Linked DNA regions of Homo sapiens. The protein of the gene in region 4 interacts with the protein of the main gene of each other region in a biochemical or structural test. Each region holds a gene or a part of one and is shown on either strand. Other genes may lie near its edges.

Evidence for each region.
Region 1: the proteins of CRB2 (region 4) and SHANK1 interact in a test that uses a peptide from one of them, tested with the Homo sapiens proteins (one large-scale study listed by IntAct).
Region 2: the proteins of CRB2 (region 4) and DLG2 interact in a test that uses a peptide from one of them, tested with the Homo sapiens proteins (one large-scale study listed by IntAct).
Region 3: the proteins of CRB2 (region 4) and TJP2 interact in a test that uses a peptide from one of them, tested with the Homo sapiens proteins (one large-scale study listed by IntAct).
Region 5: the proteins of CRB2 (region 4) and DLG1 interact in a test that uses a peptide from one of them, tested with the Homo sapiens proteins (one large-scale study listed by IntAct).
Region 6: the proteins of CRB2 (region 4) and CASK interact in a test that uses a peptide from one of them, tested with the Homo sapiens proteins (one large-scale study listed by IntAct).
Region 7: the proteins of CRB2 (region 4) and CARD11 interact in a test that uses a peptide from one of them, tested with the Homo sapiens proteins (one large-scale study listed by IntAct).

Annotation. Positions count from the first base shown.
Region 1 is NC_000019.10:50,667,803-50,671,302, reverse strand, and holds part of SHANK1 (SH3 and multiple ankyrin repeat domains protein 1), read left to right. Parts: intron 1-2,017; coding exon 2,018-3,500. UniProt on the Homo sapiens protein: Seems to be an adapter protein in the postsynaptic density (PSD) of excitatory synapses that interconnects receptors of the postsynaptic membrane including NMDA-type and metabotropic glutamate receptors via complexes with GKAP/PSD-95 and Homer, respectively, and the actin-based cytoskeleton.
Region 2 is NC_000011.10:85,620,845-85,624,344, reverse strand, and holds part of DLG2 (disks large homolog 2), read left to right. Parts: intron 1-3,500. UniProt on the Homo sapiens protein: Required for perception of chronic pain through NMDA receptor signaling. Regulates surface expression of NMDA receptors in dorsal horn neurons of the spinal cord.
Region 3 is NC_000009.12:69,180,777-69,184,276, forward strand, and holds part of TJP2 (tight junction protein 2), read left to right. Parts: intron 1-3,500. UniProt on the Homo sapiens protein: Plays a role in tight junctions and adherens junctions. Acts as a positive regulator of RANKL-induced osteoclast differentiation, potentially via mediating downstream transcriptional activity.
Region 4 is NC_000009.12:123,362,697-123,366,196, reverse strand, and holds part of CRB2 (protein crumbs homolog 2 precursor), read right to left. Parts: intron 3,333-3,500; coding exon 3,009-3,332; intron 281-3,008; coding exon 85-280; intron 1-84. UniProt on the Homo sapiens protein: Apical polarity protein that plays a central role during the epithelial-to-mesenchymal transition (EMT) at gastrulation, when newly specified mesodermal cells move inside the embryo.
Region 5 is NC_000003.12:197,068,113-197,071,612, forward strand, and holds part of DLG1 (disks large homolog 1), read right to left. Parts: intron 1,149-3,500; coding exon 1,107-1,148; intron 426-1,106; coding exon of another isoform or gene 390-425; intron 1-389. UniProt on the Homo sapiens protein: Essential multidomain scaffolding protein required for normal development. Recruits channels, receptors and signaling molecules to discrete plasma membrane domains in polarized cells.
Region 6 is NC_000023.11:41,532,055-41,535,554, forward strand, and holds part of CASK (peripheral plasma membrane protein CASK), read right to left. Parts: intron 2,920-3,500; coding exon 2,839-2,919; intron 2,733-2,838; coding exon 2,652-2,732; intron 1-2,651. UniProt on the Homo sapiens protein: Multidomain scaffolding Mg(2+)-independent protein kinase that catalyzes the phosphotransfer from ATP to proteins such as NRXN1, and plays a role in synaptic transmembrane protein anchoring and ion channel trafficking.
Region 7 is NC_000007.14:3,033,868-3,037,367, reverse strand, and holds part of CARD11 (caspase recruitment domain-containing protein 11), read left to right. Parts: intron 1-3,500. UniProt on the Homo sapiens protein: Adapter protein that plays a key role in adaptive immune response by transducing the activation of NF-kappa-B downstream of T-cell receptor (TCR) and B-cell receptor (BCR) engagement.

The DNA.
Region 1 (3,500 bases), on a different chromosome or scaffold from region 4:
CTGAGGCAGGAGAATGGCGTGAACCCGGAAGGCAGAGCTTGCAGTGAGCCGAGAACGTGCCACTGCACTCCAGCCTGGGCGACAGAGCAACCCTCTGTCTCAAAAAAAAAAAAAAAAAAAAAGAGTGAAAAAAAATAATGGAGTAAGGTAAGAGAGATAGGGAGTGCTGGGTAGGGGGCAGGGTGCAGGTTTGAGCTAAAACCTATAGATGGGCCAGGCACAGTGGCTCACACGTGTAATCCCAGCACTTTGGGAGGCCGAGGCAGGCGGATCACAAGGTCAGGAGTTCAAGACCAGCCTGACCAACATGATGAAACCCCATTTCTACTAAAAATACAAAAATTAGCCAAGCGTGGTGGCATGTGCCTGTAATCCCAGCTACTCAGGAGGCTGAGGCAGGAGAATAGCTTGAACCCGAGAGGCAGAGGTTGCAGTGAGCAAAGATCGCACCATTGCACTCCAGCCTGGGCGACAGAGCGAGACTCTGTCTCAAAAAAAAAGAAAAGAAAAAAAAACACCTAGAGATGAAGTGGGGAATCGTGAGGCTCCCTGGGGTTGAGGCATTCCAGGCAGAGCGAACTACCTCTGCAAAGGTCCTGAGGTCGGGCTGAGTCTGGTGCGTTTACAGAACAGGGAGGAGGCCTGTGTAGCAGGGGCCAAGTGAGCACTGGACATGAGGGCAGTGGGGGGACAGGGTCCCGATCCTGCAGGGTCTGGGGAGTCATGGTGAGGACTTGAACCTTTGCCCTGAGTGAGGTGAGTGAATGGCAGGGCTCTAAGCAGAGGAGGGACATGAGCTGACTTCGGTTTTAACAGAAACCCTCTGGCTGCTGTGAAGGGACTAGATTGAAGGGGATGAGCTGGGAAGCCGGGGGACCAAAGAGGAGGTGACAGCTATTGCTATCCAGATAGGAAATGATAGTGGCTGGCCCAGGGTGTTGACTCTGGAGGGGTGAGAAGGGATTGGATTCCGGATATGTTTTGAAACAACAGGATTTGCTGGTGGATTGGATGTGGGTGACTTGAGGAAGAAAGCTAAGAGTGGCTGCAAGGTTTTCAGTCTTAGCACCTGAAAGGACAGAGCTGCTGTTTGCTGCGGTGGTGGGGAGGGACCGTGGGCTGGGAGGAGTCTGTTGGTGAGGAGATCAGGAGCTTGGGTTGGAGCGTTTGGAGTCTGAGATGCCCGTGAGACAGCCAGCTGGGTGTGGGTATTTGAATATAGGGGCCCAGAGCTCAGGGCGGAGGATGGGGCCCCAGGCATAAACGTGGGCGTCGACAGCAGAAAGGCAGTGAATGAAGCTGGTCACTAGTTGAGAGGGAGTAGTCAGAGGTGAGAAGAGGTTCAAAGACCGAGCCTTGGCAGTGAAGTAAGCAAAGACTTAACTCCTGCACGCCTCCTGGAGTTGTTTTTCCCTGATTGGATTCAGCTTTCCCCAACTCCTGGCGTTCAAAGTCCACCAGTGTGAGTCTTACACTCCCACTGAGTGTGGGGTCCACCTGGCTCGCATCGTTTACCTGATTTTTTTTTTTATAGATCCAATCCCTTTTAAACTTTAGCCTCATCATAAGTGGTTCTCTCTGTAGAATCACAGCTTTGATGTGCTGGTTGCATTTCTTTCCCGCATATACGTGAAAAGAAACACGCATCTATGCATAAACACGAGGGGACTATCCCTTCCCAGCTCCAGCCACTTTTGCTGGCCCCAAACCGTTCACTGAGCCTTTGAACGGAATTAGAAAATGGCGCCCCCTCCTGGCGTGGGGAGGAAGTTCTGCTGAATTTCAGTTTCCTCACCTTCCTTGCGGTTTGCAGTTGTGCAGTGCACAACCTGTACCTCTGTATGAAGCAGATTTGGGTTTACCTCAAATAGGGAAGAGCTGGGCGAGTCCACGTGAAGTTCCTGGCATATACGGGGTGCCATTCTTGTCATTAGTATTGTTGCGGTTCTATGGGATAGTGGAGCAGGGAGACCCTCCCCGCCAGGGTCCCCCTCCTTGAGCCTCTGTATCTCCCCAGGTGCGGCAGAAGATGACAGACCTTACCTAGCACCCCCAGCCATGAAATTCAGCCGCAGCCTGTCTGTGCCTGGTTCGGAGGACATTCCCCCGCCACCCACCACGTCCCCACCGGAGCCTCCCTACAGCACACCTCCAGTCCCCTCCTCCTCAGGGCGCCTCACCCCCTCCCCTCGGGGAGGGCCCTTCAACCCTGGCTCTGGTGGCCCCCTCCCCGCCTCCTCCCCTGCATCCTTTGACGGGCCCTCCCCTCCCGACACTCGCGTGGGGAGCCGCGAGAAGAGCCTGTACCACAGTGGGCCCCTGCCCCCGGCCCACCACCACCCGCCCCACCACCACCACCACCACGCCCCGCCCCCTCAGCCCCACCACCACCACGCCCACCCCCCTCATCCTCCCGAGATGGAGACAGGCGGCTCTCCCGACGACCCTCCACCCCGCCTGGCTCTGGGGCCCCAGCCCAGCCTGCGAGGCTGGAGGGGCGGCGGGCCCAGCCCGACCCCGGGGGCCCCGTCCCCATCGCACCACGGCAGCGCGGGCGGGGGCGGCGGCTCCTCCCAGGGCCCGGCTCTACGCTATTTCCAGCTGCCCCCGCGGGCGGCCAGCGCAGCCATGTACGTGCCCGCCCGCTCGGGCCGCGGCCGCAAGGGCCCGCTGGTCAAGCAGACCAAGGTGGAAGGCGAGCCCCAGAAGGGCGGCGGCCTCCCGCCCGCGCCGTCGCCCACGTCCCCGGCCTCCCCGCAGCCGCCGCCCGCCGTGGCCGCGCCCTCGGAGAAGAACTCCATCCCCATCCCCACCATCATCATCAAGGCCCCGTCCACCAGTAGCAGCGGCCGCAGCAGCCAGGGCAGCAGCACCGAGGCGGAGCCCCCCACCCAGCCGGAGCCCACGGGAGGCGGCGGCGGCGGCGGCTCCTCGCCCAGCCCCGCCCCGGCCATGTCACCCGTGCCCCCGTCCCCCTCGCCCGTGCCCACCCCCGCCTCGCCCAGCGGCCCGGCCACGCTGGACTTCACGAGCCAGTTCGGGGCCGCCCTGGTGGGGGCGGCCCGGAGGGAGGGGGGCTGGCAGAATGAGGCGCGCCGGCGCTCCACGCTGTTCCTGTCCACCGACGCGGGGGACGAGGACGGCGGGGACGGCGGGCTGGGCACAGGGGCGGCCCCGGGCCCGCGGCTGCGCCACTCCAAATCCATCGACGAGGGCATGTTCTCCGCCGAGCCCTACCTCCGACTGGAGTCTGCGGGCAGCGGCGCGGGCTACGGCGGCTACGGGGCCGGTAGCCGAGCCTACGGGGGTGGCGGGGGCAGCAGCGCCTTCACCAGCTTCCTGCCCCCGCGACCCCTGGTGCACCCGCTGACCGGCAAGGCCCTGGATCCCGCCTCCCCGCTGGGGCTGGCCCTGGCCGCCCGCGAGCGAGCGCTGAAGGAGTCCTCGGAGGGCGGCGGGGCCCCCCAGCCGCCTCCCAGGCCCCCATCGCCCCGCTACGA
Region 2 (3,500 bases), on a different chromosome or scaffold from region 4:
AGTATATTTTTGTCAAAGAGAGAGGAGATTCTTTTACTGATACCATGCAACCATGGTGGGAATTGGGAATGGGTGTGACATCTCACTAAGCCCATTTCTAGGTGCCATTCTGGACTGCCCTTGGATAAGCTGAAACTACTGTGCCTCAAACCCCATATTAACTGCTCGTTTGCTTTATGACATTACTTTCTACTTCTCTCACTCTAGTCTCTTCGCATTTTTACAGATCTCAGTTTTATCAACAGAAGACTCTTCTGTTTCCTCATAGAAGGTTTTTTTTCCTCAGCAGTTGCTTTTCATTCAAGATTTTCTTATCTATAGTAGTAACTTTATTTGCTCCCAGGTGAGCCCTTGGGACAATCTTGGACATATTTTAATTTGTGAAAATTTAGGACCAATTCAGGATAAGTTGTATTAGTATTCTCTGATATGATGCAAGACCATAGTGTGTTATAAGGGTCTGTTTTAACAAGTCTTCTTGAATTGATCTGATATGATTTCCTACTGTGTTAACATAAGAAATAAAAGTTAATGATAGGTACGTCATTTGCCATGTTTTACAGCAGAAAGTTGCTGTTTTAAAGATAAAAATATGCTTTAACAGAATTTTCTAGTACAATGCAGCTTCTTTTTTGAATGGCTTTTTGTTCTCATTGTCATTAAATATGTGGAAGAAATCAATGCCTTTATTACTTTGAGATAAATGTTCATTTCATTTCAGTGTTTTAAAAAATTGTCCTATTGCCAGGCGCGGTGGCTCACGCCTGTAATCCCAGCACTTTGGGAGGCCGAGGCGGGCGGATCATGAGGTCAGGAGTTCAAGACCAGCCTGGCCAACGTGGTGAAACCCCATCTCTACTAAAAATACAAAAATTAGCTGGGCATAGTGGTGCGTGCCTGTAATCCCAGCTACTTGGGAGGCTGACGCAGGAGAATTGCTTGAACCCAGGAGGTGGAGGTTGCAGTGAGGTAAGACTGTGCCGCTGCACTCCAACTTGGCGACAGAGAGAGACTTCGTCTCAAAAAAAAAAAAATTGTCCTATTGTCTTCGGAGCTTCTTTTAAACTGGTGTAGAAGTTTGTCTGAAATTATTTATTTATATGACCCTTTATTTCCTTTGAATTATTTTTTTGCAGTGGTTCTCAGTGATATAATATATATATAAACATTTTTATCATGTACTGAAAGCTAAGTCCTATCTTTTTTATATGTATATGTTTTGACATTATAGCTTTCAAAGGAAGCTGAAGAATGTTATATAATTGGAATCTTTTTTTTTTTTTTTGGGAGACAGAGTCTTGCTCTGTAGCCCAGGTGGGAGTGCAGTAGTGTGATCTCGGCTCACTGGAACCTCCGCCTCCGGGGTTCGTGCAATTCTCTTGACTCAGCTTTCTGAGTAGCTGGGATTACAGGTGCGTGCCACCACACCTGGCTAATTTTTGTATTTTTAGTAGAAACAGGGTTTCACCATGTTGGCCAGGCTGATCTCGAACTCCTGACCTCGTTATCCACCCACCTTGGCCTCCCAAAGTGCTGGGATTACAGGCATGAGCCAGTGCGCCTGGCCTTAGAATCTTAAGACATGATATTGCCATATATCTCATAGGCACCCTTGAAACTGAGATTACAGTTTCCTGGACTCACAGTTCTTAAATTATCTCTTTGCTTTTGGTTGACTGTATACTTCATAAAAGTGTCATTTCTTTTTTTTTTTTTTCCTCTGGGGAAGAGGACCTTATGACTCTCCTGCTTATTTTTTCCCTATTCAAAGTTTTCTTCTTTTGTTGTTTCCTGCACATTATGGCTCCACTTCTTGTTTTATAGTATCTTACTAATTTACATTTGCTTTTTGTTATCGGGTATACTCTGTTTTCATCTCTAGTTTTTCTTAAGTTCTTAAAATCATTTTTTTTTCAGAATCAATAAGAGGGGGAATATGTACAGGTATATCTCAGAGATATTGCGGGTTAGGTTCCAGACCACTGAAATAAGGCCTATTATCACAATGAAGCAAGCTACACAAATATTCTGGTTTTCTGATGCATATATACAATATATTGTATACTACGGTATATATGCACTGGGAAACCAAAATATTTGTTGTATACAGTACAGTATATACTATACTATAGTCCATTAGGTTTGCGATCGTATTATGTCTAAAAACAATGTACGTACTTTAAGTAAAAATGCTTTACAACTAAAAAATGCTAATGATCATATGAGCCTTTAGCGAGTAGTAATCTTTTTGCTGGTGGAAGATCTTGCTTCGTTGTTGATGGCTGCTAACTGATCAGGGTGATGATTGCTGAAGGTTGGGATGTCTAAGGCAATTTGTTAAAATAGGACAACAATGAAGTTTGCCACATCAATTGACTCTTTATTTTATGAGAGATTTCTCTGTAGCATGAGATGCTGTTTGACAGCATTTTACCCACAGTACAACTTCTTTCAAAATTGGAATTGGTTTTCTCAAACCCTGCTGCTGCTTTATCAACTAAGTGTATGTAATATTCTAAACCCTTTGTTGCCATTTCAAACAATGTTCACAACATCTTCACTGGAAGTAGATTTCATCTGAAGAAACCACTTTCTTTGCTCATCCATAAGAAGCAACTCCTCATTCATTCCAGTTTTATCATGAGATTGCAGCAATTCAGTCACATCTTCAGGCTTCACTTCTAGTTCTAGATCTCTTGCTATTTCCATTCCATCTGAAGTTACTTCTTCCACTGAAGACTTGAATCCCTCAAAGTCATCCATGAAAGTTGGAATGAATGTCTTCCAAACTCCCGTTAATGTTGATATTTTGACCTCCTCCTGTGAATCAAGAATGTTCTTAATGGCATATAGAATGATGAGTTCTTTCCAGGAGGTTTTCAATTTACTTTGGCCAGATCTATCAGGGAATCACTGTGGCAGATATAGTCTTACAAAATTTATTTCTTAAATAATAAGGCTTGAAAGTTGAAGTTACTCCTTCATCTGTGGCCTGCAGAATGGATGTACTATTAGCAGGCATGAAAACAACTTTAATCTCCTTGTATATGTTCATTGGAGCTCTTGGGTGACTAGGTGCATTGTCAATGAGTAGTAATATTTGGAAAGGAATCTTTTTTTTTTTTTTCTGAGTAGTAGTTCTCAACAGTGAGCTTAAAATATTCAGTAAACCATGCTGTAAACGGATGTGCTGTCACCCAGGCTTTTGTTGACCTACTTTTAGAGCATGGACAGAATAGATTTAGCATAATTCTTAAAGACCCTAGGATTTTTGGAAGGGTAAATGAGCATTGGCTTCAACGTAAAGTCACCAGCTACATTCACCCATTAGCCTCTAAGAAGCGTCAGCCTGTCCTTTGAAACTTTGAAATGAGGCATTGATTTCTCTCTAGCATTTTCTTCTGATGTAAGGCTATTTTGTCTGAATTGAAAATCTGTTGTTTAGCCATTTTCATCAATTATCTCAGCTAGATCTTCTTGATAACTTGCTGTAGCTTCTT
Region 3 (3,500 bases), about 54 Mb from region 4:
TTTAGCAGCCTGGTTTCTGCGTTACCCTTCTGCAGTCTGGCTGAATCAATTGTGTTCTTGCCTGTGATTGGTGAGGATGCACATGCTAGTATTTATTCTAGCCCTTATCACTTCCCATCAGCCCTGAGCCCCTCCCTGGTCTGAGTCATCTTGGTAACCCCAGAAGCTAACAGAGCACCAACACATCCACTAAACGTTGGACTGACTTGATTTGGGGCAGGCTTGTTGTATAAGCTAGTAGGAATAAGAGACTAATTGAGAAATTAGGACAGTGGATTCCTGACATTTATATAGTGAGTAGATGATCGTTTGTTAGAATTGCGAATTTCATCCAGAGAATTTTGTCCAAAAAAAATTATAGAATTTCATCTAGACCATTTTTGTAATGGCATGGAAGCAGCATTAGCTGCACCACTGATTAGCTGGGTGGCTTTTGCTGTCTTGTGACTCTAGTTTGCAATTTCTTTTTTTTTTTTTTTTTTTTTTTTTTGAGGTGGAGTCTAGCCCTATCGCTGAGGCTGGAGTGCAATGGCCCGATCTCAGCTCACTGCAACGTCTGCCTCCTAGGTTCAAGCGATTCTCCTGCCTCAGCCTCCCAAGTAGCTGGGATTACAGGCACACGCCACCACACCCTGCTAATTTTTTGTATCTTTGGTAGAGACGGGGCTTCACCATGTTGGCCAGGCTGGTCTCGAACTCCTGAGCTCGTGATCCGCCTGCCTTGGCCTCCCGAAGTGCTGGGATTATAGGCATGAGCCACCTCGCCTGGCCTAGTTCTCAGTTTCTTTATCAGAAAATGAGTAGTTACAGTTGATCATCTCAAAGTCTTTTGTGCTTAAGATTCTGAAGGTTTTGAAGTTTGAGTATAAAGCCTAGAGAACATTCTAAATTATTTCCATTGGTTCTTCTCATCTTAAAATGTTTTTGTGCTCCTTAAACTACGTTTGTGTTTGCTTGCTTGCTTTCTTTTTTTTTTAGAGATCCAGTGGATTATCTCTGAAAAGCATTTTTTAAAAAGACAGAGTCCAAGAGTGGCTGGTAGTTGTTTTGCTCATAAAGTGATGGAAAGATCTATTATTCAGTTGCAGCTTAAATTATGTACCAGCACCACGTGTGCTGGATTCTCTTCCTTACTTTGCAGCTTAAGCCAGCAACTGCAACCATCTTGCAGAGCTTCTTGAGAATCCTTCTTCCTCTTCCTCTTCCTCTCCACCCCCATGGACTTCTCCCCGGGCCTCATTGCCTGTGACATACGCTTGGAAGGAGGGGCAGGCCTGCAGCTGGGAGCCCTTTCTGATTTGTTCTTCACAAATGTGTTGAAGATGAGCCTACTGGTCACTGCTGCAAAAAACCACATTGTTCACTGGTGTAAAATCACTGCTGTCATCTGAGTTTCAGCATAACTTCAGGCATGTTGGAGTTTTTCAACGTCACCTCAGGCAGAGCACTTTGCCTTCCTTGGGCTGGTCTGTTTAGTGTCTGGGTGAGTTTTAAGAGAGGAGAGACATTGTGGCATCTTAGACACTCACTGAAATTTTCCAGAAATGGAGCTGGAAACATTTGTGCGTTTCCTTCTGGTGTTATTGTTAAAGCCTAAAAACAAGGGCAAGTGGCAACACATTGAAATGAAGAAGCCCCAAGTTTGCAACACATTGAAAGGAAGAGGCCCCAAGTTCGTTTTGAGCCTAAATTGAATTTTAATCAAAGGTCTGAGAGAAATATTTAGTCTACTTATACTATTTAAGTGCACAGTTTGGCAGATGACTTTGGGCAGTGAAGGATCTGGAAGAGGCAGGAAAGGTAGACTCAATCTGCCAGACTTAGAGCTAAAAAAATTTGCCTGGTATGTTTCCATGAAGAAAATTTTCCTGTAGAAGCAGTGGCACGACCTCTGTTACAAGTCTGCTTATTGATAATGAAGCTTTTTCTGTGTTATCAATTTCGTTGAATTTATATGTATGTATATACATATACACACACACAAATCTCAAGTAGAGAGCTTGATGAATTTCTTTTTTTTTTTTTTTTTGAGATGGAGTTTCACTCTTGTTGCCCAGGCTGAAGTGCAGTGGTGCCATCTCGGCTCACCACAACCTGTGCCCTCCAGGTTCAAGCAATTCTCCGGCCTCAGCCTCCCGAGTAGTTGGGACTACAGGTGCGCACCACCATGCCCGGCTAATTTTGTATTTTTTTTTTTTTTAGTAGAGACAAGGTTTCTTCATGTTGGTCAGGCTGATCTCGAACTCCTGATCTCGGGTGATCCACCTGCCTCAGCCTCCCAAAGTGCTGGAATTACAGGCGTGAGCCATTGTGCCTGGCCAGGGAATTTTATTTATTGTGGTAAAGTACACATAACATTAAGTGTACCATTTTAACCATTTTAAAGTATAAAATTCAATGGCATTTAATACACTCACAGTATTTTGTAAACACCATCACTCTCTAGTTCCAGAGGTAGGTGAATTTTTACATGAATGTATTCACCTGCATGATTACCACCTAGATTAAAAACTAGAATTTTCCATCACTCTGGAAGGTTCTCTCTTGCCACTTTTCCAATGATTACCACACCTACCTAAAAGAGAACTTCTCTTCTGACTTCTCTCACCGTGGAACACTTTTGCTTGAACTTGGGAGAGGACCCATATATAAATAAAATCAACATTTTATGTCTGTCATCTTTCACTCAACCTAACCTCTGTGAAATTCATCCGTATTTGTTGCGTGAGATTCAGTAGTTCTTTTTTGCCACTGAGTCGTATTCCATTTATATGCATCTGTCACATTTGGCTTATCTCTTCTGTTGATAGGTATTTGGGTTATTTTCAGTGTTTTTGCTATTATGAATAAAGCTGCCATGAAAAGCACCTACACATTGCCTTGTGGACATGTACACCCATTTCTCTTGTGTGAATTCCTAGGACCATAGGTTAGGGATTTTTTAAAAAACTTATTTTAGATTAAAAAAAATATTTTTTGAGACAGTCTCACTCTGTCACCCAGGCTGGAGTGCAGTGGCATGATCTCAGCTCATTGCGACCTGTGCCTCCCAGGTTCAAGTGATTCTCCTGCTTCAGCCTCCCAAGTAGCTGGGATTACAGGCATGCGCCACTACACCTAGCTAATTTTTGTATTTTTAGTAGAGACAGGTTTCTCTTCAACTCCTGAGTTCAAGCAGTCTGCCCACCTTGGCCTCCCAAAATGCTGGGATTATAAATGCGAGCCACCACGCCCAGCCAGGTTACAGATGTTTAACTTTGATTCTTTACCTCTGAAGTCAAATAAACCTGGGTGTGAATTCTTTTGTCCTGCCACTTGCTTGCTTGACTTTGAGCAATTTACCTTTTTCTCATGTTCAGTTTTCTCAGTTGTAAAATAGGCCTACCCTATCAGTCATGGTTCAGTCAAGAAGACATGTCATTCTAGCTATTTCAAGGAGAAGGGGATTCAATACAGAGTATTAGTTGCCTTCAGGACAAAGAAAAGGCGAGATGCGCAAA
Region 4 (3,500 bases):
CGCGCCTGCCCCTTCTGCCCCGCGCCTGGCCTCCCCGCCCTCGGGCACCCGGCGCCCCTGCCGCCTGCCCCGCCGCTCGCTCACCCGTTGACCAGGTCGTGGCACGTGCCCCCATGTGCGCACGGCTGGCTCTGGCACTCGTCGAGGTCCAGCTGGCAACGGGTGCCCCCGTAGCCTGGCGCGCACACACAGCGGAAGGAGCCCACGCCGTCCAGGCACGAGCCCCCGTGCAGGCAGGGCGCTGAGGCGCACTCGTCCACCTCCATCTCGCAGGTCACGCCTGGACAGGGCAGGGGACACACAGGGTGCAGGATGGACACCCAGAGCAGGGCGGAAGAGGTCGCGCCAGGCCTGCTCCAGAGTTAGAGACTCGTGGATTCATTCATTCAGAGCCGGATGGTGGTGGTGGTGGTTGGGGGGTGGGGGACGGGTCATGCCAGCAACCGCAGGGAGAGAAACGAGACAGACAGCCCTGCCTTCATGGGGCTCACAGCAGTCTAGGCCAGGACATGGTGGGGGGTGATTCAGCCAGTAATTACCTAAATGAGCTAGGTGATGTTGCCAAGTTCAACAAGGAAAGGGGTTGGGTCTTGGGAAAGCAATAGCCGGGGTCTGCTCTGTTCAGGGAAGGCTTCCTAGAAGAAGAGGCTTTTGAAGGATTCAGATAGGGGACTGTGGGCAGCAGTTGGATTCCAAAGAGACTGCAGCAAGAGGCAAGTTCCACTAGGGGCAGGGCCATGATGCCCTAGGCGGGGTTATTGGAGGGTTGGAAGCAAGGGAGAGGGTGGCGGAGGTGAGTCGGGTGGGAGGTGTCAGTGCCTTGGGGACCAGGTAACCTCTGGGTCCATCCTGAAAGTTTCAGACAGGTAAGTGACTTGGTCCCACCTACATTTTAGTTAGTTGTTTTGGGTTTGTTTTTGTTTTTTATTTTTTTGAGACAGAGTCTCACTCTGTCGCCCAGGCTGGAGTGCAGTGCTGCAATCTTAGCCCACTGCAATCTCTGCCCACTGGGTTCAAGTGATTCTTGTGCCTCAGATTGCAGAGTAGCTGGGATTACAGGTGCATGCCACCTCACCCGGCTAATTTTTGTATTTTTTTGTAGAAAAGGCGTTTCACCATGTTGGCCAGGTTGGTCTCCAACTCCTGGCCTCAAGTGATCCACCCACCTCAGCCTCCCGAAGTGCTGGGATTACAGGCGTGAGCCACCACACCTGGCCCTACCTACTTTTTAGAAGGTCCACTCTGGTGGCTTTCAGATCCCAGAGAGGCAGGAGATGCTTGAGTAGGGTAATCACTCCTCCCAGTGTCCCTGCACTGTCCTGGTTTTAGAACTGAAAGTACCAAGTCCCCAGAACCCTCGCAGTCCTGGGCGAATCACGACAGCTGAGTGGCTCTCCCAGGGTGATGGTGAAGAGGAAGGGAGATGGGGAGTCCCAGGGTTTCAGATACGCTGCCTGAGATCATCCTGGACTCACGTGTCACTGTAGACTCCAGCAGGCCCTGCCCCCTAAGTGGGTTTGGTCAAGCGGGGGCCAGAGGCCCAGCTGACTCCAGCTGGAACCCTCCCCCTTCTCAGTTCATTGAGCACAAAACATGGCCCCACCTTCCCATGACCCTTCCCTCCTCCCTCCCCATCCCCACTCCCACCCTCTGTGCCAGGGGGAGCCAGGCCTTGTCTGGAAATCCCAAACTCCCCCACCCGGCTTGGAATGGAAAGAGGAGAGAATGAGTCACGGCAGATGCTGCCCCCACTCACATCCACAGCTTACCCAGGAAGAGTCACCCGAAGTGTGTGAGTGCTACACATCCGGATGCACAACCCACTGCCCGCACAACCCACTGCCCGCACAACCCACTGCCCACACAACCCACTGCCCGAACAACCCACTGCCCACACATGCACTCAGACTGCAGACACCCCCAGGTACTGGCAGATCTTTACAGATGCAAAACAGAACTTGGAACTAGGAGACACATGGACGAATGTGACCTGCACTGGCATGTACACTAATACACCCAGACGCTGAGACACTGGAACGATGAGAAAGATGCATGGAACCAGCTTCCCAAATCTCTCTTCATCAGCTGCCATCTCTTCGCTGTAGGCCCCCTGCCCTGGAACCCAGCCCCCCAATCTGTACCTCTTGCTCTGAAGTGACTTCAAACTGCCCTCTGCCCTCAGAGTACAGTTGTCTGAATTCAGGATTGAAGTAGGATCCAGAGCATCTACACTGCAGACTCAGACTCTGCCCTGGACTCAGCTTCGCTCCCAGACTGCGCCCCTTCTGTCCCCAGCTGCGCCCTCCTTCCCGACTTCAGGCCTCTCTGGGAAGCCGCTCCAGGATGTTCTCGGCTCAGACCATGGGTGGGCCTGGGACGGGCCACACTCTGGAGAAGGTACCCTTAGTGCCAGTCACTTTTCTGAGCACTTACGTATATATTATCCCACTCCAGACAGCAGCGATCCCTGGGGTATGTCAACACTACAGTTTGAACGAGACCTTGTATGTCTATGCTAGAACTCTGGGGGAGACCCAGAGGCCAGGGGTCCACATTGCACTCCAGACCACATCAGGAGTGTTCAAATGAGCTGATGGTGACTGTCGTGTAGACAGTGTCTACATGACAGCTTGGCACAGGCCTGAAGTGCTAGAAAGACTATCTGGGCATCCTCACTAAAGTCACGCCAGGCAGGTTCACACTGCCAGAGATGAATGAGGGGTATTCCACCCCCGCAGCCAAACTGAACTCTAGGCTGGACTGAAATCACATTTACCGAGTGCCTGAGATGCGCCACACACCACGCCAGCACCCGCACATACATACTCTCACCCAGAGCTGCCAGGCATCAGTTCTGTAGTCAGACCAAGTGGATATACCCTAGAGCTGCCCGGATGCCTGGGGGCGTCCCTACACGAAAGGCAAAGCTGAAGCCATGATGCTTACACTCTGAGCAGCTGATGCGATCTGCATTACAGACCTCCTCCCAGGGCGGCCCAGGCTGTTACCTGCATAGCCAAGGGGGCAATGGCACTCGTAGCGATCGGCCAGGTTGCGGCAGGTGGCCCCATGGTGGCACGGCCGGGATGCACACTCATCGATGTCCAGCTCGCAGCGTGGGCCCTGGAAACCCGGCACGCAGTAGCAGCGGAAGCCGGTGGGATCTGGACCCTGGGGCACACACAGAGCGCCGTGGTGGCATGGCTGGGTGGCACAGCCCCGGGGCTCCATGGGCCCACAGGTATAGCCACCACTCTCGGTAGCCTGGCACTCGGTCCCTGGAGCGCACGGGTCTGAGGCACAGGCACTGGGGGGCTCTGAAGGCACCGTCCCTGTAGAAAGAAGAAACTGGCTGGGCAGGGTGGGCAGAGGTTACAAGGACAATCTCCTCCCCACCCTCTCAGGCCCACCCCAGACCCCAAAAGCAACGTGGGTCTCTGCATGCACAGTATGGACAGAGGGCCAGGGGTCTGCAAGCCAGGTCCCAGTAAGCTGCACAC
Region 5 (3,500 bases), on a different chromosome or scaffold from region 4:
AAGTATTTCTTTGTTTTCAATTTTATTATCAAAGTACATAAGACCAATATTTTATAAGCTGTTTTTTAAAGTACTGGATGTGAAACATGGCTTACATACTAGCAAACACATGCAATTTGAATATTTCACACCTTAATAATTCATGCAAATGGTGAGAGACAGTATATACTTTCATTACCTCTTTTTAGCCTAGAAAGCCACTCAACTACCCTATAGTGGGTTCTGGTTATAATTAATAAAATGCTGAAATACAGGAAATCATTTCCACACCAAAAAAAAAATCATTAAGTAACTATTGTGTAGAAAAATAATCAACCAAATGAATGACGGTTAAAAGTATATACTGTCAACATGAAAAAGTATTAGGGACTGATATTAACAGGATGGACCTTTTGAGCAGCCATACTCATCTGTAATCAAGATTACTTTCATATTAGACAGCAGTAAAAAAAGAAAGTTAGAAAAGTAATTTTAATTTTTAAGGTGCTACAACTGATATTATGTACCCTCCCCTTCTCCCATGCCCAAGTCTGTTTTAAAACATCACATGCTTGTGCAGTTCACTTAATAAAACCAAGAATGTAATATAAAACAGCAAAAGAAAAATTAGTATTATTTTTCAGGTGATCATTGAAAATGTTTCCTTATTTCTTCCGTTCACCAAGTGCTGGTGATAAACAATGACATGACCCAGATCAGTATTGGTGACAAAGAATAAAAATGGAAATAAAGCTAATGATAATTTAGCATTACTGAAAAATATTATTTTAGTGCTCATGTTAAAACCAATTACTAAACAGAAGGTCAAAATACAAGTTTTCCCCCATTTAACTAGATATTTACTTCTTACAAAAAATACATATACATATACATATGTATCATGTACACAAATAATATTTTTATTTTATTAAAATTTTATAAATTAACCTCTACATATATAGTATGATTTTATTTTTCAAGTACAGAATTTTACTTGTCTCTCCCTGATTTTAAAATAACGATCATATAACTTCAGGTTTTTATAACATATCACTCAGAATCCCTCCACCCCTGCAGAGGATGTATTACTCGAGATTACAAAAGAACAAGTAACTTAAAACACTTACGGTAACTACTTTCACTATCGCTGGCATTAGAAGTTACATGCTCTGAAATTGCAGGACAATGAAAAAAAATAAAACAGTGTCATGAGTTTAAAAAGCAAATAATCAAAATGAAATGTTGAGATATAAGCCATATATAACAAAATAATTTTTTAAAAGCATTTTCTTTTTCTTTGAAACGTTTAAGTTTTTCAAATAATAAATATATATTAGCAAAGGAAAACTCCTGTAATTAAGGACAATGCCTTATTTTTGTACAACACAGTTTATGAACAAATCTATTATAAATAGCAAGTAGAATATGACAAAAAGGGCTAAGTGACCCTGAATTAGTCCAAATGTAGACATAAAACTCAAAGGAGAAAATACTGTTGGCACTATTTCAGTTTTTGAAACAGCGTTAACTGGCAAAGGGGACAAACTATATTTAAACAAATAGATGCCCATTTTAATGACGGGATGTCTTTGTAATTAAAAATAAATAGATGATCTTATTTTCAATCCAGCTTTGCTCCTGTTTCTGAAGATGAAAATCCATGTTTCTGAGATCATATAGATAAAGGATTGTAAAGGTCATAAATTCAGATGTCTCAGCTGGAAGGGAAGGCACTGATGGTGGCAATTGCATTTTAAAACCAACTAATATTAGAAGTCATAAATTCAGATGTCTCAGCTGGAAGGGAAGGCACCGATGGTGGCAATTGCATTTTAAAACCAACTAATATTTCTTAGAAACTCTGCTTTGATAAGACTGGCACTGGCTGGCTTTTGCAAAACATAAAAAAGACAATGAGAACAAACACACCCAGCCAGAAACTGCCTGGCCCTCCTTAAAAGTGACTCCATTTCACGACTTTATTGTTTGGTAAAACCATAGGCACTCTTCTCATCCATGTAAATGTCATCTCAAGTTTTCTCTCAATAAATATCTCCCTTCAATTAAACAAAGACTAATACTTTTATTTTTAAAAAATAAAAATAAAACTTTCAATGAGACAGGGAAATCTGAATTTTTATTTTAACTTTTTTTTTTTTTTTTAATTAAAGGGACAGGGCCTCACTCTGTTGCTCAGGTGGGAGTGAGGTGGTATGACTATAGCTCACTGCAGCCTCGCCCTCCTCTCCTGGGCTTCTGTGATCCTCCCATCTTAGCCCAGAGTGGCTGGGACTACAGGTATGTACCACCATGCCCTGCTAAAATTTTGTTTTTTTTTTTTAATAAAAGAGACAAGTCTCAACTATGTTGCCCACACTGGTCTCAAACTCCTGGCCTCAAGGGATCCTCCCATCTCAGCTTCCCAAAGTGCTGGGATTACAGGTGTGAATCACCACACCCAGCTGGAAATTTCATTTTTTTTTTTTTTTTTTTTTTGAGATAGTCTCCCTTTGTTGCCCAGGCTGGAGTGCAGTGGCACGATCTCAGCTCACTGCAACCTCTGCCTCCTAGGTTTAAGCGATTCTATTCTTGTGTCTCAGACACCTGACTACCTGGCACTGCAGGTATATAGCACCATGCCCAACTAATTTTTCTATTTTTAGTAGAGACTGGTTTCACCATGTTGGCCAGGCTGATATTGAACCTCTGAGCTCACGTGATCTGTCTGCCTTGGCCTCCCAAAGTGCTGGGATTACAGGTGTGAGCCACCGCACCTGGCCAAATGGTAGGTTTTTTAAAAGCTCATATTAAAATATTTCTTTCCATGTCACCACATGGGCTTGACAGCAATAATTTAAAATTGGTGTATAATATTCTATTAGATTGATACATTATTTACCTCGCTATTTATTAGATATTTTTATTTGCTTTAAACTGTTTTTCACAAGTATCAACAATTATGAATGTCTTCATTTATATATACCTTTTAACTTTCTGTCCTATTTCCTTAAATTTCATACCCAGAAACACGCCACATTAAAAAAAGAGTTATTCTGTTTACATTAGTATTGGTATTACCCTCTGCAATCTCTAGTTTGTAAACTAAAGAAAAATTAGTTATTGCAATGGGGTGAAGGGAGGGGAGTGTAAGTGGGAGTACAGAAGAAACAGAATTGGCAAATGTTCAGTTGACAATTATGAAAGCTGGATAAACAAATACCTGCAGGGTTTATTTTTACTACTTTTCTACTATTGAATATATCTGATATTTATATAATAAAAAGTTTAAGTTACCAAAATCTCTTCACTGTCTTTTTTTTTTTTTTTTGAGATTTCTCCTACTCACCTCAAACCCTCTAAGACTGCCAAAAGCTACGCCACAATCAAATTCTGCAGGTTCTTTCAAATATCATTTCACTTAGCTCTTCTACAATAAAGCCTCACTACTCAAAGTATGGTCCTTAGAATAGCGTCATCATAATTGTTTGGAATGTTATTAGAAAAATAAAATGTTTTTCTTC
Region 6 (3,500 bases), on a different chromosome or scaffold from region 4:
CCTCCTGAGCAGCTGGGATTATAGGCGTGTACCACCATGCCCAGCTATTTTTTGTATTTCCAACAGAGACGGGGTTTCACCATGTTGGCCAGACTGGTCTCAAACTCCTGACCTCAGGTGATCTGCCCGCCTCAGTCTCCCAAAGTGCTGGGATTACAGGTGTGAGCCACTGCACCTGGCCACCTACTGTCTGTTTTTGTAAACAAAGTTTTACTGGAACACAGCCATGTGCTTTTGTTTACATATTGCCTATGGTTGTTTTCATGAGACAACAGCAGAGCTAAGTGCTTGTGATAGACTGTATGGCCTTAAAGCCTCAAATGTGTACTATCTGGTCCTTTACAGAAAAGGCTTGCCCACCCCTCACCTAAGTGAGTGTAACTGAAGTATATGCCAATAAGCTCTAGTTCTGTGGATACTAATAGGACCAGTATCCTGCAAAACACACTTTAGGAAATGTTTTTCTAGATGAGCCAGGAACACTGGTTTTAATATTCTCTCTCCCTACCCCCCTTTCTTTTCTCCCTTCCTTCCCTTTTTTTCCCTCTCTCTCTCAATTTCTTTGCTTCCTTCTTTCTTTGAGAAAGAACAAATTTATGCTACTCTCTTCTGTATACATGAGCCTAAACTAATGGGGAATCCCCCTTTCCTGCTAGCCTGTTTGTTAGAACATAAAGTGCTCGTGGTCATCAAAATGTGGACATTTTAAGAGAAGCCCTTTCTCTAGGCACATCAAAAGCTGAAGAACCGGCGTTACTATTTATTTATTTATTGAGACAGGGTCTCACTCTGTTGCCCAGGCTGGAGTGCAGTAGCAAGATCTCAGCTCACTGCAACTTCCAGCTCCCGGGTTCCAAGCGATTTTCATGCCTCAGCCACCCTAATAGCTGGGACTACAGGTGTGTGCCACCATGCCCGGCTAACTTTTGTATTTTTAGTAGAGATGGGGTTTCACCACATTGGCCAGGCTGGTCTCAAACTCCTGGTCTCATGTGATCCACCCATCTCGGCCTCCCAAAGTGCTGGGATTATAGGTGTGAGCCACCGCGCCCAGCCAAGAACTTACATAACATATTGATGTTGTACTATCTTCAGTCATCTCAGTAGTTAGATATATGTTATATACACATACAGGGTCAAATATTTCAAAGACTAGTCATGATTGACATCATCAAAGGTAAGTTTTAAAACCAAACTAGTTAACTGGCCATTTAATAACATGGAAGTTCAGTTGTTACGTGGTTAAGAAGAAGCTAAATGTTAGCTAAGCTTGCTGTACTCATGATCTAGACATAAGGAGAATTAAAAGAACACTTCAAAGTGTTTTACTAGAAAACCCCAGTAGTGCCAAATGAGACACTATTGGATACATTTCTTTTCTTGTGTAAATCAGACAAGGTTTTGGGATGAAGGTTTTCTCATGAAGCCTCCTGGCTCTCTGAGGTGTACAGATAACTGTAAGTGGTATTGACATTGCTTCAGGAAGGCATGTGAAGGCCCTATAGAATGGAGCCAATCTTCACATTTTCTCCTGTTGCTCTTAAAAAATAATTTTCCTTTAGCTCTTCCAACCCTGAGCTGCTAGAAAGCTTCTGGGGTTAAAATTTTATTTATTTTTTTTTGAGACGGAGTTTCACTCTTGTTGCCCAGGCTGGAGTGCAATGGCACGATCTCGGCTCACCACAACCTCCACCTCCGGATTCAACTGATTCTCCTGCTTCAGCCTGCTGAGTAGCTGGGATTACAGGCATGCACCACTATGCCTAGCTAATTTTGTATTTTTAGTAGAGACGGGGTTTCTCCATGTTGGTCAGGCTGGTCTCAAACTCCCGACCTCAGGTGATTCGCCCACCTCAGCCTCCCAAAGTGCTGGAATTACAGGCATGAGCCACCGCGCCTGGCCTAAAATTTTAAACTTTAGAATAATGATGATAATAATGAAATGATAGTGGTAGATAGCTTCTACTTATCCACCATCTGCTAAGTGCTTCATACACATGATCTCAAATCCTCTCTGCAATCCTGAATTACTTCATTTTACAATTGAGAAAATGAAGAGGGCAAGAGGTTAAGAATAAGATACGGAAAATAAGGAGAATTAAAAATCTTACAGATTTGAAAATCTTTACAGAAACAACTGTTAGCATATTGATTGGGTTTAAAAAGTGGTAAGAAATCAACAATTTAAATATTAACTAAGGGAAAAAAATTGTCATATCAGAAACTGTACAACTATGAAAACTTATTTTTCTGAAGAATAATTCATCTAGGTAATGTGTATGACATATTGTTAGAAAAATTGTTACAAACAGAATGGATAAAACTAATTTTATTTAAAACACACACACACACACACACACACACACACACACACACACACTTTATACACATATCTGTACTAAGACAAGCCTAGAAGGGTATACAACAGAGAAGCCTAGAAGGGTATACAACAAAATATTTATAGCACTTATTATAGGGAAAGAGGGGTTGGGATTACTGTTAACTCATTTTCCTCCTTGTTCTTTTTTTGATTTTACAAATTTCCTACAATGAACAGTTATACCTTATGTAATCAGAAAAAAATACATAAATTATAGAGTTAAAAAAGTGATAGGAAAAATATAATGAAAAGAGATTGAGACATTGCTTACGTGGAATAGGGTACGCAAACCGGTCTGGGTGCTTTGTGATGAGAGTGTTTTTTATGTGTCTTCTCCCAACACCATGTGCGCCTATGTCATTTAGAAAAAAAGAATGTTAAAACTGACAACTCTTAATAATGTTCACAAAATGTTTTGAAAGTGAGAATAAGCAACTCACTTACACAATCAAACTTACCTAATAAGACTAGTGTTTTCCTCTTGAATGCTGGCAGTTTTACTACTTCTTCATATGTGACAAGATCTAATTGATCAAACACTAAAACGCAAAGATTTAGAAGAAAGGTAAATTTGTAGAATGACTATTTCATGTACATAAATTATAATTTTACTGGCAAAACTACAGTTATATTAAAACCATGTCTTAAAAATATGAATCCAACTTATGATATATGGCTTACATGTAATTTAAGTCATATAGCATCTAGGGAGAAATTTTCATTTTTAAGCCCATGAAAATGCTCTTTAGAACCAGGGGCATCCAAAGATGCTGAACACATGCATTAAAATGTCCAAATCTAAAAGATACTACATATCTTTTCATGTAGTATCCAACAAATCATATGAATTAATTTGAAACCACATGCTGTTCATATTTTTCCAATTCTAAGAAGTCAGCAATACTAAAAAGAAAAAGTCTACAGACAGTGACCAACATGAATATAGCATGAATGCAACTAAAGTTAACCAGGAGAGGGGCCAGCTAGATCATTTCTAGAGATGGATGAGAAATGCATGGACAGCTGGTCTTTAACTTCATGGTTCTTTCTTTCAACAGAGTTGATGAAGGTGGCATGCTAGATTCTAAGGCAAGTTCTGTAACTATTGCACAAGCTTATC
Region 7 (3,500 bases), on a different chromosome or scaffold from region 4:
TAAACCAATGAGACATGGGAACTGGCACACTTTTTCTCGAAAGCTCCAAATAGTAAATATTTTAGGCCTTGTGAGCCAGAGGGTCTCTGTCGAAGCTAGCAACTCTGTCCTTGCGGGGTGGAGGCGGCTGCAGTTGGGAGTGAGTATGGCCACCTTCGGCACAGTGGATGGCACAGGACTGGACCCTCAGTGGGAGTGTCCAGACCCCAAAATTAGAGAATTCAACCAATGGAAAAAATGGTGAAAGGGTACAAACACACGGAATATGAGCAGGTCAGTCAGCATGCTTCGTTTGTAATTAAATCCATGTGAAGTAATACAACAGGGACATAGCGTTTTCCACCTGTCAGACTGGCAAACATCAAAAAGTTTGATAGGCCAGGCGTGGCACCTCTCACCTGTGATCCCAACACTTTGGGAAGCCCAGGTGGAAGGATCACTTCAGCCTAGGAGTTCGAGACCAGCCTGGGCAACATAGTGAGATCCCACCTCTACAAAAAAACTTTAAAAAATTAGCCAGGCATGGTGACACACACCTGTAGTAGTCCCAGCTCCTCCAGAGGCTGAGATGGGAGGATCACTTGAGCCCAGGAGTTTGAGGCTGCAGTGAGCTAGGATTGCACTACTGTACTCCAGCCTGGGCAGTAGAACAAGACCCCATCTCTAAAAATAAAATAAAAAAGAAAGGTAAAACTGATTGCCCATCAGTAATAATAATAATAATAATTTTTAAAAATTAAGGTATAACACACACACAGTACAGTCTTAAGCGTACAAACAGCTTGACGGGCCTTCACATGCCCTTCTGGAGCCAATCACCCAGATCAAGATTTGGGTCCTTTCTAGGTTCTGGGGAAGTGCCATATCCCCTCCCAGTCGTTACCCCTCCCCTGTCCCCTAAGGGAGGACCCTTCCAACCTCTATCACCATCCCTGTCCTTGAACTTGACGTGGACGGAGTCACATTCAATGTTTCTTTTTCATTGCTACACAGTATTTCATGGCATAAATTTACCGCAATAGGGGCAGGCGCTGTGTCTCATGCCTGTAATCCCAGCACTTTGGGAGGCCAAGGCAGGCAGATTGCTTTGAGCTCAGGAGTTCAAGACCAGCCTGGGCAACAGGATGTAACCGTCTCTACAAAAATTCAAAAATTAGCCAAGCATTGGTGGCTTGCGCCTATAATCCCAGCTACTCGGGAGGCTGAGGCTGGAGAATTGCTTGAGCCCAAGAAAGCAGAGGTTGCAGTGAGCCAAGATCGCACCACTGCACTCCAGCCTGGGTGACAGAGTGAGACCTGTCTCAAAAAAAAAAAAAAAAAAATTACCACAATTTACTTATCCACCTGACCGTTGATAAATGTTTCTGTTGCTTGCAGTTTGGGGCTGTTATGATGAAACCACTGTGAACATTCTTATACGTGTCTTGGTGGTGATGGCCCTTTAAAAAAAAAAATCTGGAAGCAGCCTGGGCACAGTGGCTCATGTCTATCATCCCAGCACTTTGGGAGGCTGAGGCAGGAGGATGGCTTGAGCCTAGTTGTTTGAGACCAGCCTGGGCAACATAGTAAGACCCCATCTCTACAAAAAATGTAAAAGTTAGCTGGTGTAGTGGTCATGCCTGTGGGCCTAGCTCCTCAGGAGGCTGAGGTGGGAGGATCACTTGAGCTCAGGAGGTAGAGGCTGCAGTGAGCTGTGATTGCACCACTGCACTCCAGCCTGGGCGACAGAAGGAGACCTTGTCTCTGAAATTTAAAAAATCCAAGGAGGGCTGGGCGCGGTGGCTCACGCCTGTAATCCCACCACTTTGGGAGGCCGAGGCAGGCGGATCAAGAGGTCAGGAGATCGAGACCATCCTGGCTAACACGGTGAAACCCTCTCTCTACTAAAAATACAAAAAAATTAGCCAGGCGTGGTGGTGGGCACCTGTAGTCCCAGCTACTCGGGAGGCTGAGGCAGGAGAGTGGCGTGAACCCGGGAGGCGGAGGCTGCAGTGAGCCGAGATCGCGCCGCTGCACTCCAGCCTGGGTGACAGAGTGAGACTCCATCTCAAAAAAAAAAAAAAAAAAAAAAAAAAATCCAAGGGCAAGCAGAGGCCCTGTGCCGGCGTTTTCTGCGGTTTAGTAAATTGCTATGTCAGTGGATAAATGCTGCTGTGAAGTAAAACTGTAACGTTATTGACATTAGTGCTTCGTTGCCTGCCTCTGCGTAAGGATTATGTGATTCGTGGAAATCTTCTAAGAAGAAATGGCCTATTTTTAAAGGGATTCAGGTATCGTTGGTTCCGGGGGAAACGTTCAGCAGAATAATAACGATACCTCACACCGCCTTCCAAGACTCCTGACTTCAATTCTCAGACGCGTTTCAAGAAGCAGCTTGATACCCTGCGGAGAGCCTCTGCGAGCTGACATGGGGGTCCCTGTTTGCCAGTGAACAGGCACCGTGATCCCCGTTTGAGTCCCTGAGGCACGCAGAGGCTCTTGGCTCTTCGTAGGAGAGTTCTCGATCTTTGAAAAATGTTTCTCCTCCTTCTTAAAGGACGGCCTTTTACCGGGCCCTGTTCCGAGTGTTCTGAGCCCGGGGAGGTCTTAGACTGGCGAAGAGCATGACCTAGTGGGGAAAGGACCCAGCTCCGGTACAAGCAGAAGGCCGTCTGTGCGCCGGGGACGGGTCACCGTGTCTCCTCACTCATTTTATGTGGAAGTTTGCTGTAATTTTGTCTTGCTCTGTTGCCCAGGCTGGAGTGCAATGGTGCCATCATAGCTCACTGCAGCCTCAGCCTCCTGGGTTCAAGCAATCCTGTCACCTCAGCCTCCCAAGTAGCTGCGACTACAGGCATGTGACACCATGACCGGCTAATTTTTTTATTTTTTGTAGAGATGAGGGTCTTGCTATGTTGCCCAGGCTGGTCTCGAACTCCTAGACTCAAACTATCCTCCAGCCTCAGCCTCCCAAAGTTCTGGGATTACAGATGTGAGCCACCGTGCCCAGCCCTGTATCTTTCTTAAGTAATTTGTACATATATACATATTATTTTTAAAAAATTATATATGTAATTATATGTATAATTATATATTTATATATAATTGTATATAATATGTATAATTATATTTGTATAATATCTATTTATATAATTTATATATATAATTTAGTAATTATATATATACAGTTCTATTTTCTTTGACACAGAGTCTCACTCTTGTTGCCCAGGCTGGAGTGCAGTAGTGTGATCTCAACTCGCTGCAACCTCCACCTCGCGGGTTCAGGCAATTCTCCTGCCTCAGCCTGCTGAGTAGCTGGAATAACAGGTGTGTGCCACCATGCCCAGCTAATTTTGTATTTTTAGTAGAGATAGGGTTTCACCATGTTGGCCAGGCTGGTCTCGAACCCCTGACCTCAGGGGATCCGCCCGCCTCAGCCTCCCAAAGTGCTAGGATGACAGGCATGAGCCACCGTGCCCAGCTGTAATTTTAAAATATATTTTAAAGATCAACCTTATGTC